Linked DNA regions of Homo sapiens. The protein of the gene in region 1 interacts with the protein of each later gene in a biochemical or structural test. Each region holds a gene or a part of one and is shown in the gene's direction. Other genes may lie near its edges.

Evidence for each region.
Region 2: of the proteins of CYP4A11 (region 1) and CYB5A, one has a biochemical effect on the other in vitro, tested with the Homo sapiens proteins (one study listed by BioGRID).

Annotation. Positions count from the first base shown.
Region 1 is NC_000001.11:46,928,688-46,932,975, reverse strand, and holds the end of CYP4A11 (cytochrome P450 4A11), read left to right. Parts: intron 1-138; coding exon 139-215; coding exon of another isoform or gene 216-219; intron 220-2,665; coding exon 2,666-2,861; 3' UTR 2,862-3,788; downstream 3,789-4,288. UniProt on the Homo sapiens protein: A cytochrome P450 monooxygenase involved in the metabolism of fatty acids and their oxygenated derivatives (oxylipins).
Region 2 is NC_000018.10:74,288,867-74,297,260, reverse strand, and holds the start of CYB5A (cytochrome b5), read left to right. Parts: upstream 1-5,297; 5' UTR 5,298-5,385; coding exon 5,386-5,514; intron 5,515-8,394.

The DNA of each region.
Region 1 (4,288 bases):
GTCCTTGAGAGGAGGAAATGAGGTGATCCCTCAAGACCAATACCTTCTCCTGCTTCCACCTCTGGGAGTCCTGTCCCCCATGGGTGGCAAGTAGGTGCTGGATCCTTAACTATCCTGGCTCTGGTGCTCTCTCTGCAGGTGTTTGACCCTTTCCGTTTTGCACCGGGTTCTGCTCAACACAGCCACGCTTTCCTGCCCTTCTCAGGAGGATCAAGGTGAGACGTCCTGTGTGGTAATTCGAATAGAGGAATGAGGGAAGTCTCTGGTCAACCCTCTGATCTTTGTGAGCCTGATGTTCATATGTGGCATCTTCAGGTGTGCTCTTAAATGTTGGTATTTGTGGGAAAGTCAGGCACCTGGTGTGGGCGTCTCTGTGTACAAAAGGAAGGTGGCATTCAGAGCACCCCATGGAGACTTTGCTCCCTCTGCTTCTTCAAATGGGCAGCCTGAATTCACTGTCAGTGCATGTTCCAAACTTCAGTATATTCATGTATTTTCCTCACTTTAAGGATATGAATTCTCAAAATTAGATATTCTCCAGTAAATTCAACTTCAGCTGTTTGCTTTTCTCAGTTGTCAGGAATAGTAAACTGTAGATTTCTCTCCCCCCACACATCCTCAATGCAGCACACTACCTTCCCTATTTAATTCACTAGTCTGTCGTAGAGATGAATCATTGAAGTCTTTGCATCTGTTTATAATACAGATGACCTGCAAGTCCTACCTTTCAAGTCATATAAGGGAGAGGTTAAGGTAGCCCTTTGAAGAAAGTTTTACAACAGTGTGTGTCATATCATACATTCTTCTGTCTTGCCCAATGAAATTTTTACTGCATTATATAGTGTTCACATATTTACATCTATTTTCCCGTTTGACAAATTCTGTACATGCCTTGAGATCTTTATACCATAGTCCTGTAATCCACTTAGCACAATATTGGCCAAAAACATAAAAATGTGAACAGTACACTGTCTTGGAGAGAAAAGCCCAATAATTATCATATAACGCACAACATTTGAAGCCTCCTGGTATGTGAAATATAAAACACACTTGAAATTGCTTTTGAGCTGGAGAGGAAAACTCCAGAATGGTTGCGGTGGAGATCATTGTGGCATCAGGAATCGTCCTGTGACATACACACAGGCAAAAACGATATAAATTCTTAGTAGAAACAAAGTTTGTTCAAAGAAATAATTATGTGACTTTTTGAAACGGTGAGTCCACTTACACAGAACAGGCTTTAAGAAAAAGCTTCCTCCTGAAACTCCTTCTCCAGCACTGGTCTGTCTATCCCAGCATGAGAAAGTCCTCCTAAACATTGCCTGCAAATCATGTCGCTGCCACTAGAGAACTGGAGAGCATTCCTAAGGTCCATTTCTAGCTCAGAATTAATATTTACTCTCAGTGTATTTCATTATATTTTATTCATTTTAAAACTTAACATCATTCAAATATAGAAGTATTTCTTAAGCTACCTCTCTGGGTCAAGTCCTATGCAGCATGATGAGAAAACAGAGATAAAAAGTACAAAAATGTGTTGTACAGAAATATATCCTGTGCTCCAGACACACATCGTTCCATCAACCATCCTTTCACTCATTCACTCACTGAGTGGCGTGTTGAGTGTCCCTGTCCCTGGTGCTGTCCTTGGCACTGGACTGTGAGTGTTCATGGATAAATCGTGAATGCTACCTGGGGGCCTGGGAGGGAGAGGCCCAGCTGGCAGGGAGTGAGAGGCAGCTGGGATCTGACTTTAGCCTTGAGGATGTGGCAGGCAGAGGTGGAGGGAGGACATTCTGAGCCATCTCCACATGAACAGGGCCAGGACGTGGGCTGGACAGGTAAAATGTGGGTGAGGCAAGAGCCCATGGAGGGCTTATCTGCCAGCTGAGGCATTGGGATGCTGTCCCACCTGTGATGAAGAGCGTGGGAGGGTCTGAGCTGGGCTGTGGCTTCAGTGTGCTGGGAGGGGAAGCAGAAAACCATAAAGTCCAGGCAAGAATACTGAGGAAGGGCAAGGAAGGATGTTTCTGGAGTAGAATTAGAAGGCTACAGGGGCTGGTGGATGGAGGAGTGAGGTTAGACAGGAGCCCGGACCCTGGGGTGGGAGGCAGGTGGGGCAACACTGAGGATCACCCACCCAGTTCTCCTCCAGGAAGCCTCCCACTGCCCTTCTGACTCCCTTAATACACCCATCGGGGCCCCTATGAGGATTCAGGTCCCTGTGTGTCCCACTACATGGGAAGCACCTGAGAGTGTGGCCCACCCTCACCCTACAGGACCTGAACTGACCTCCACACTGGAGAACAAGAAATGTTTGTGGAGGAGTGAACAAACCATTGATTAACTCTTTATCTATTCATGTGATTAGACTCTGTGCCTTAGAGCCCTGGCCTTGTCTTGATAGAGGGTTTCAGGCTGCTGAGAGCAGAGGTAGAGGGTAGGAGTTAGGAGCTAGCCCAGGAAGACGGCTCTGTCCAAGGATTGGGATAGTGTGAAGCCAGGACGGGGTAGAAGTGTCCATGGGCTGTATGTGTGCAGGGGCTGGACACATGAGGTTGGGCACTGAATGTCCAGCTCAGGGCTGGGGTCAGGGGCCAAAACCTGCTCAGATCAGAATGGGGCCTGAGGACACTTCTCAATTCATTATCTCCACCTGGCCCAGGAACTGCATCGGGAAACAATTTGCCATGAACGAGCTGAAGGTGGCCACGGCCCTGACCCTGCTCCGCTTTGAGCTGCTGCCTGATCCCACCAGGATCCCCATCCCCATTGCACGACTTGTGTTGAAATCCAAAAATGGAATCCACCTGCGTCTCAGGAGGCTCCCTAACCCTTGTGAAGACAAGGACCAGCTTTGAGGGCCTCCACCTGCCGTCCTGTCTTCCTGACCCCCGCTTCTGTCCCCTTCCTGTCTGCCCATATCCTGTTTTCTGTCTGCCCACCTTCCCTTCTTCCCACCTGCCTGCTGTCCCCCAGTCTGCCTGCCCTTCTCTCTCTCACCTTTCTCCAGGCTCCCTACCTGCTTGTCTACCTGTCTCCTACCCACCTGTATCTCTTGTTGGGAGAAAAGCTGAGTGTTGGGAGAAGCTGAGGCCGAGCTTGCATGTCTGACATAATGTAAAAGAGTCTTGGATCATGTCCAGGATCCAGGGTCTAAAACCCCTTGTGGCCTTTGGAACACCAAGCTCTGTGCTGAAGGGTGGAAGGCTACCCTGACGCACCATAATCTAAGCCCGGGGCATAAAACCCCTCGTGGCTTGGATAGAATCCAGGGCTCGTGGCTCTGGAATGTGTCTGAACTTGCTGCCTCCTCGCTCCTTGCTCTCCCAGGATCAATTGTATCTTGAGTTAAAAGAACCTGCTCTCCATTATCTCAAGTAGCAGAGCAGATGCTAAACCGTCACAGCTGTAAATCATGTGCTTAATGCAACATGCCCTTTCGACCCCCACATTCTCACCACCTGTTTCTTTGTTTGATCACCAATAAATAATCTGCACTTCCAGAGCTCGGGGCCTTCACAGCCTCCATCCTTAGCTTTGGCGCCCTGGACCCACTTTCTCTCTCAAACTGTCTTTTCTCACTGCTTTGACTCTGCCGGACTTTGTCACCCCCACGACCTGGTGTTGGGTCTGAACACCCCAACATCCCTGAATCTCCACCCACCTCCCAAACTCCTGCCTGCCCTCCAGACTGTCTGCCCATACACCTGTCTCCTTCTTCCTGCCTGCTTGTCTGTTCCTATATTAGTTTCCTATTACTGCTGTAATAAACTATCACAATCTCAGTGATTTTAAATAACGACTTTTATTCTCTTACAGTTATGGAGGTCAAAGTCAGATATATGGGTTTCACTGAATTAAAACAAGTTCTGGAGAGGGCCAGACCCCCACCCCCAGAAGGTTTCAGGGAGAGCCCTGCCCCTTGGCTTTTCAGCTCCAGAGCTGCCTTTTTTGCATTCCTTGGTACGGTCCCCTCCTTCCTCTTTAAAGCCAATGGCATCTTCAAATCTCTCTCTCTGTGACTGTCTTCACATCTCTTTCCCTCTTATAAGGACCCTTGTGGTTAGTTACATCAAGCTTATTAAGATAATCAAGGATAATGTCACCACCTCAAGATCCGTTACTTACTCAAAAGTCCATTGTGACATATGCAGTCCCACAATCACAGGTTTCATGAATTAGGATGTGGACAACATGGAGACCCATTGTTCATCCTAGCACAGCCCCTACCGGATTGTCATCCAATGTGTCCATCTAAATCTCTCCTGTATGCTACCTACCTACA
Region 2 (8,394 bases), on another chromosome or scaffold:
AGGACTGGAAGATAGTCACCTAGAGGGCTGGTGTCTGGGACGAGGTTGGGGCCGAGCAAGAAAGGGCATCCATATAAAAGTTCAAATGGGCTGTACTCTGTAGCATCTCGAGGACAGGCTCTAATTCTGAGAAGGGAAAGTGGTAAAAGTACTATCCGGTCCTTTTTAAATTGGAGGCTGAGCTTAGTGAGGTGTGTCTTTAAAAGACCATTAGTCCGTTCTACCTTTCCTGAAGATTGAGGACGATAAGGGGTATGAAGTTTCCACTGAATACCAAGAGCCTGAGAAACTGCTTGGGTGATTTGACTAATAAAGGCCCGTCCGCTATTGGACTGCACAGAAGTGGGAAGTCCAAACCAAGGAATTATGTCTGACAGAAGGGAAGAAATGACCACGGTGGCCTTCTCAGACCCTGTGGGAAAGGCCTCTACCTATCTGGTGAAAGTGTCTTCCCAGACCAAGAGGTATGTTAGTTTCCTGACTCGGGGCATACGAGTAAAGTCAATTTGCCAGTCCTGGGCAGGGGCAAATCTCCGAGCTTGATGTGTAGGGAAGGGAGGGGGCCTCAACAATCCCTGAGGAGTAGAATAGCAGATAGAACACAGAGAAGCGATTTCCTTGAGAATAGATTTCCACGATGGAAAGGAAATGAGAGGTTCTAAGAGGCGGGTTAGCAGCTTATAACATACATGGAAGAGGTTATGAAGTGACGACAGAATAGAATGGGCCTGTGAGGCTGGAAGGAGATATTTTCCTTGGTCTAAGAACCATTTACCTTGAGTGGGGAGGGATTGATAGGTAGAAACTTCAGTGGGAGAGTAAGTAGGAGTGACTGATGAGAAGGAGAAAAACTGGCCGTGAGGGACAGAAGTAGGAATGCTAGCTGCTTCTTTAGCTACCTTATCAGCATAAGCATTGCCCTGAGCGACGCGATCTGATGCCTTTTGATGGCCCTTGCAGTGAATGACTCCAGCTTCCTTTGGAAGTAAAGTGGCCTTGAGAAGAGTTTTTATTAAAGAGGCATTAATGATGGAGGACCCTTGTGTAGTGAGGAAACCTCTTTCAGCCCATATAACAGCATGGTGGTACGGGATATGGAAGGCATATTTAGAGTCAGTATAAATATTGACATGCAGTCCCTTTGCAAGAGTGAGGGCCCAGGTTAAGACAATGAGTTTGGCTTGCTGAGAGGTAGTGGAGGGGGGCAGAGTGGTAGCCTCAGTGATAGATGTGGAAGACACTATAGCATAGCCTGCCTTTGCCAGTGATTGGCGATTGGGCCTGGAAGAACTATCATCAATAAACCAAGCGTGGTCTGGGTGGGGAACAGGAAAGAGGTAATATGGGGAAATGGGGAGAATGAATGGTTTCGTTAGGATGGCAAAACCAGGTATCTAAAGGCAAAAGTACCTAACCATGCCTAGGAAGGAAAGGAGTTGTTTTGTAGAAGGGGTTGGGGTTTGGGAGATTAGCTGGACATGATTAGCAGGGAGAGCACATGTATTTTTATGAAGAATTATGCCGAGATAGGTAACGGATGAGGAAGAAATTTGGGCTTGACTGAAGTAATGGGGGCTGTCCCTGAAGCCTTGCGCCAGTACAGCCCAGGTAAGTTGCTGAGGCTGATGGGTGTCAGGGTCAGTCTAAGTGAAAGCGAAGAGAGGCTGGGATGAAAGGTGCAAAGGAATAGTAAAGAAAGCATGTTTGAGATCCAGAACAGAATGGGTTATGGAGGGGTAAAATGGGGGAATTGTAAGGAGAGTTTATAGGCTTTATAAGGCCATGCTGTAACAAGTGAGTGATAACAGGCTTTAATTCTTTTAAAGCGTGCTGTGGGATGGGATATTGGTGTTGAGCAGGGTAAGGGTGATTAGGTTTTAATGGGATGGTAAGGGGTGCATGATCAGTTGCCAAGGAGGGAGTAGAGATGTCTCATACTTGTGGATTAAGGTGAGGAGATACAAGGAAAATATGTGAAGGAGGCTTTGAACTGGGAAAAAGGGTGACAATGAGGTGTGGCTGTAGCCTAGGAATAGTCAGGGAAGCAGATAATTTAGTTAAAATGCCTCGACCTAATAAGGGAACTGGGCAGGCGGGAATAACTAAAAAGGAGCGCATAAAAGAATACTGTCCCAGTTGGCACCAGAATTGGGGAGTTTTAAGAGGTTTAGAAGCCTGGCCGTCAATACCCACAACTGTTATGGAGGCAAGGGAAAGAGGCCCTTGAAAAGAAGGTAATGTGCAGTGGATAGCCTCCGTATTAAGAAGGGGATGGACTCATCCTCCACTGTAAGAGTTACCTAAAGCATCTATCATGGTCCAGGAGGCTTCCAAGGCGATCGGGCAGTGTCAGTCTTCAGCCACTAAGCCGAGAAGATCTGGGAAGGAGTCAGTCAGTGAGCCTTGCGCCAGAGTTCCAGGAACTCTAGGAATGGCTGCCAGGTGAGTTGGACAGTCCAATTTCCAGTGGGGTCCTGCACAGATGGGACATTGCTTAGGAGGAATCCGGGCTGCAGACATTCCTTGGCCCAGTGGCCACATTTTCAGTACTTGAAGCAAGATCCTGGGGTAGGAGGTCTTGGAAGAACGCCTGGCCACTGCGGTTTAGGCGTTTTGAAATTCTTGTATGCTGGAGATGTGGCTGAAGTTTCTCTCACAGCAGAGGCAAGTAATTGCCACTCTTCTCTATTATTGTACACCTTGAAGGCAAGGTTAAGTCCTGTTGTGGGGTTTGAGGGCTGGAATCCAATTTTTGGAGCTTTTTCTAACGTCAGGAGTGGGTTGGGTAATAAAATGCATACTGAGAATAAGACGGCCTTCTGGCCTCTCTGGGTCTAGGGCGGTAAGGCGTTTAAGGGTTGTTGCCAAACGGGCCATGAACTGGGCTGGGGTTTTATATTTGATGAAAAAGAGCCTAACTGTTTTGGGAGAGGTCGGATAAAGAAAACAGGAGCAACAACCTTGACTATGCCTTTAGCTCCAGCCACCTCTTTAAGAGGAAATTGTTGGGCAGGTGGGGTAGGGCTAGTCAAGGAACAAAACCATAAGCCGGACTAGGTGTGAGGAGGGGAAGTGATAGAAGGATTATAGAGTGGGGGAACAGAGGCTGCGGAAGAATTGGGACCTGGCTCAGCCCGGCGAGCAGGGGAGAGGTCAGATGGCTCCACAGAAAAGGAGGATTCAAAGTACTCAGAGCTTGGGGTGGAGACCGAAGGAACACACAGGAGAGAAAGAAGAAAGATTTGGGATGAGTCGCATTGGGAGCAGAGACTAGGGCGGGACTGATGTGTAGAAGAATGCCTGGATGTCAGGAACCTCAGACCATTTGCCCATTTTACGACAAGAATTATCTAGATCTTGTAGGGTGGAGAAATTGAAAGTGCCATTTTCTGGCTATTTGGAACCACTGTCAAGTTTGTATTGGGGTCAGGTGGTATTGCAGAAGAAAATAAGGTGTTTAGGTTTTAGGTCAGGCGAGAGTTGAAGAGGTTTTAAGTTCTTGAGAACACAGGCTAAGGGAGAAGAAGGAGGAATGGAGGGTGGAAGGTTGCCCATAGTGAAGGAGGCAAGCCCAGAGAAAAGAGAGGGCAGAGACACAGGGGGGGTCGGTACTTGACACCAAGGTGAAGGATCAAGGCAGGTGTCCCTGTGGTGATCAGACACCTCTGAAATGTGGGTGAATAATCAGGCAGGCATCCCTGCAGTGATTAAACACCAAGGGAAGACTGTCTTCTCGAGTCCGTGACCAGTGCCGGAGTTTTGGGTTCACGGATAAAACACATCTCCTCTGTCTCTATCAGAAAAGGAAAGGAACTGAAATTAAGGGAAGGGATAGATTGAAGGGTGGTGCCAAAATTGAAAGGAGAAAGAGGTTGAGAGATAGTGAGAGAGGTTGGAGAAGAGAGTAAAAAGAAGCTGCTTACCCAATTTAAAATTGGTGAGATGTTCCTGGAGCTGGTTGGTCTGAGGACCCGAGGTTGTAGGTGGATCTTTCTCACAGAGCAAAGAGCAGGAGGACAGGTGACTGTCTTATCAGTTAAGGCAGGAACCGGCCATTTTCACTTCTTTTGTGATTCTTCAGTTGCTTCAGCATTTTCACTTCTTTTGTGATTCTTCAGTTGCTTCAGGCCATCTGGATGTATATGTGCAGGCTTGGGCTCAGAGGCCTGACATGCGTGTGTTTTGTGTTTTTCTGGATAGGCATGCATTCCTATGGAGGAGGTAAGCAGGGGGAAGGGAGCTCACATTCATCAGACACCTAGTATGTGTAGGAACCTTCTGCATCCCTGGAAGGATGGATGACCCCACATGTGAAACCTCTCGTGTGGTTCTTTTTGGAATTAACTACCATTGCTGAAAAGGGCCTACATAAAATATCAAATTTTAACATGCTGGAATTTTTCTTTATTTTTTTTCTCCTTCAAACATTTGTAGCTCTTTATATGTGGTATTTCCTCTGTGTCAGAAGGGAAAGAGGGTGCCCTTTGGGGAAGTTCTCTTCCAGACTCCTAGAAGAGAATCTGATTTACCTTAAATGCACAAACAAGGCCTTGCCATGTCACTGGCCAACCGCAGACAAACTACTTCAGTCACAGAAATAATTTGGACACTTTTGCTTTTTAAGGAAAAGATGATTTCCCTGGATTTTTTTCCTGTGAGGACGAGGCATTCCAAAACCCCAGCGGGGTCAGGCACAGTTCGCCAACTTTATGTTTTGGGGGGCAGCGCATTTGCTTCCCGAAGTGAGTTGCGAAACCGTTTTCTAGCGCGCACGGGGCTTTCATCTCTTCCGTGCATGCGAACGGCTTTCCGAGATGCCCCCTTTATGGGCTTGGCCATCGCTACTTTTGTTACAAATTAACGTCTGGGACTCGGACTGCTGCCAATAGGAAACTCCCGCGATTCGCTGCCTAGTTCGCCGCCCTCACAAGACTGGACTCTGCACAGGCCATCCATGCCCGCTGGTGCACCTCGCTCTCTCGCACGCTTAACCCGCGGGGACGCCCCCGACCTCCCACCTCAGCCCTCGCCACAGTTAGTCCCGCCCTTCCGCGCAGACTCCGTGGAGTCCTGTCACGCTCTCCGCGCGCTGCGGCAGCCGGGAGATTGTGAAGGGCACCTCCGGCAGCCAATTAACACCCGCATACTGGGCGGGACCACGCTTGGGCAGGCGGAGGGGGTCGACCGAAGGCGGGGACTTTTGAGTGACAAGGATGATGGCCAACCGTCGGAGGCCCTTCTACTGCGCCCCGCCCCTGAGCCGGCCGCCCAGCCCCCAGTGGGGTTCCCGGCGCGGGGAATGTCCCGGGTGGAGCTGGCTGAGTCGCGCGCTCTGCTCCACCCGACGGGGCTGTGTGTGCTGGGCCTGGCTCGCGGCGAACCGAGATGGCAGAGCAGTCGGACGAGGCCGTGAAGTACTACACCCTAGAGGAGATTCAGAAGCACAACCACAGCAAGAGCACCTGGCTGATCCTGCACCACAAGGTGTACGATTTGACCAAATTTCTGGAAGAGGTGAGTTGGGGATGAGCGGCTTGGGGCGCAGGGAGCGTGGGCCGGGTTTGGGGGTTCACTGGCATGACCTGTCTTTCGCGGCCCGGAGTCCGCATACCTACGCCTAGGCGCGCCCCCCGAGTTCGCTCACCTGCGCGTGTACGCCTGGGCGCGCTTCCGAGTCCGCACACCTGCGCGTGCAAGCCTGGGCGCCCCCCACCGCCCCAAGTCCGCACACCTGCGCGCTCACACCTGGGAGCGCTCCCCGAGTCCGCACACCTGCTAGTGTACACCTGGGCGCTCTCCTCGAGTCCGCACACCTGCGCGTGCACACCTGGGGAGCGCTCCCTGAGTCCGCACACCTGCGCGTGTACACCTGGGAGCGCTCCCCGAATCCGTACACCTGCGCGTGCACACCTGGGAGCGCCCTGCGCGGCGGCATCCTCGCTAGGTGGTGCTGGAGCAGCCTTCCGGGGATAGCGCGCAGCCATGCGGGGGATTTAAATGATCCCTTTCTCCCTTGAGTTTGAATAGAAGGGTGTCCTTCCAGGACCGGCGGCATTCCCGCAGTGGCCGGCTGGAGACCACCCACCCCGAGAGCTGCGGATCCCGCCGGAGGGGACCCCAAGTGCGGAGGTCGGGTGTGGTCCGGGCCTGCGCTTCCCGCGGCAGCCACTGGCCGACCTTGCGGTCCACACCCACTCGCGTTCGCGTTCACCTGGAAGAGGCTCGGTGTTAATTAACCTTTTCCAGTCACGCCTTGGCAGCCAGGTGCCGTGCTTGACTCCTGAGACCGCGGTGTGTGGCTGGAGCAAGAACACAGAGGCCAGGCAGAGCAGCGGACGTTCTGCGTGGGACTCGCCCCTAACAGCTTTGGAAGGTGTAATAGGAAACGTTGGTTAACTTGAAGACATTCCTTTGATAAGATTCTTTGCATTCGGTTATAATTTTTGCCGCACACGCTAAGGGGCGCTTTTGGTGATTGTCTTAGATCCTCTGGAAGTGTTTTACTACTTTTGGGGGAGTCTCAATCATAAATCTTAACGCATGCTCACGCCCCCTCCCAATAATGAGAAGGTTTAGTGATGGGAATTTTTTACATAGTCGGGGAGCAGGGGACAAAAATAGATGCCTGGTCTGAGCTGGATCACAGTTTATATCAGAGGACTTTGTTTTTGCAGAAAATGTTAAAATCAAAAGGCCTGTTTTAAAAAATGAGGCTGGGCCAAGCACGGTGGCTCACACATGTAATCCCAGCACTTTGGGAGGCTGAGGCGGGTGGATCACTTGAGTCTAGGAGTTCGAGACCAGCTTGACCAACATGGCGAAACCCCATCTCTAACCAAAATACCAAAATTAGCCAGGCCTGGCGGGGCACGCCTGTAGTCCCAGCTACTCGGGAGGCTGAGACAGGAGAATCCCTTAAACCTGGGAGGCAGAGGTTGCAGTGAGCCGAAATCGCACCACTTTGCTCCAGCCTGGGGGACAGAGTGAGACTCTGTCTCTAAATAAATAAATAAAATTAAATAATAAGGCTGGAGTTGATGTTTATTGGTAAGGTATTTCACTCTGGAGCAGTGCCCGAAGATAAAGTCATGTTACCATTTAGTAAGGAGGGGTTTATGTTGGGAAATCAGAGCTGACCTGTCCTCTCCCTCCTGCCCGGCTGCAGATCTTGTCATATAACATCAATTCTCATTAACTCTAAATGTGGAATTTTAAGATACAGTGTGTGCTTTGTCTATTTGTGCTTATAGAAGAAGTAGCATAAGAGAATATTAGGATATTTTATATTATGAAGCATTTTCTTCTTTTCTTGTCTTCTCCTAAAGCGAGTTTTTTCAACCCTGGCACTGTTGACATTTTGGGCCAGCCGATCTTTGTTGTGGCGTCTGTCCTGGGCATTGTAGGATATTGAGCCACCTCCCTGAGTTCTACCCACTAGATGACCGGTACCACCACCTCCCCTATTTTTTTTTTTTTTTTTTTTTGAGACAGAGTTTTGCTCTTGTGGCCCAGGCTGGAGTGCAATGGTGTGATCTCGACTCACTGCAACCTCTGCCTCCTGGGTTCAACCAATTCTCCTGCCTCAGCCTCCCAAGTAGCTGGGATTACAGGCGCACACCATCACGCCCAGCTAATTTTTGTATTTTTAATAGAGACAGGGTTTCAACATGTTGGCCAAGTTGGTCTCGAACTGCTGATCTCAGGTGATCCACCCACCTTAGCCTCCCAAAGTGCTGGGATTACAGGCGTGAGCCACTGCTCCCAGCCCTACCTCCCCTATTTATAGCAACCCAAAATGTCTCCAGATATTGCCAGAGGTCCCCTAGGGCACATAATCTCTCCAACTTGAGAATTACTAAGGTTACTGTGCATGACTTTAGGGGTAGATTTTCAGAGACGATAATAGGGAAGTGAAGATTATTGTTAAAATGTACTCAAAACTATTTACTTTCACATTTCATTCCTGTGAGTCAGGAAAGGAGGGATTGTGCAAAAAATTTTCCGAGAAAAACTGAGAGATGAGAGCAAGCTCTTGAGTGGGTAAATTAGCTGAAAACAAATTTCTTTATTTTTTCTTACTCAAAGTTTTTGTGGAGAATGCATCTCAAATAAAATGAACAAGAGGGTGGCTGACCCCTGGAACGGCTAGGAGGATGGCGTGAGTGAGGAGGCTGGGGTCTGGGAGAAACACAAGGAGTTAGTTTGGTTTTGGTCCTGTTGACTTTAAGAGGTTGGAGGGATCTTCAGGCATTGCGAGAACTGCATGCGTTTCTGCCTCCACTGTCTGCCAACATGTGGTTCTGGGAACAAGCAAGGCCACTTAGCCTTTCACTGGATTGTGTCTGACCTCTGGGCACCTCCCGATTCGACCTCTTATGGACGTGTTTTTCCATT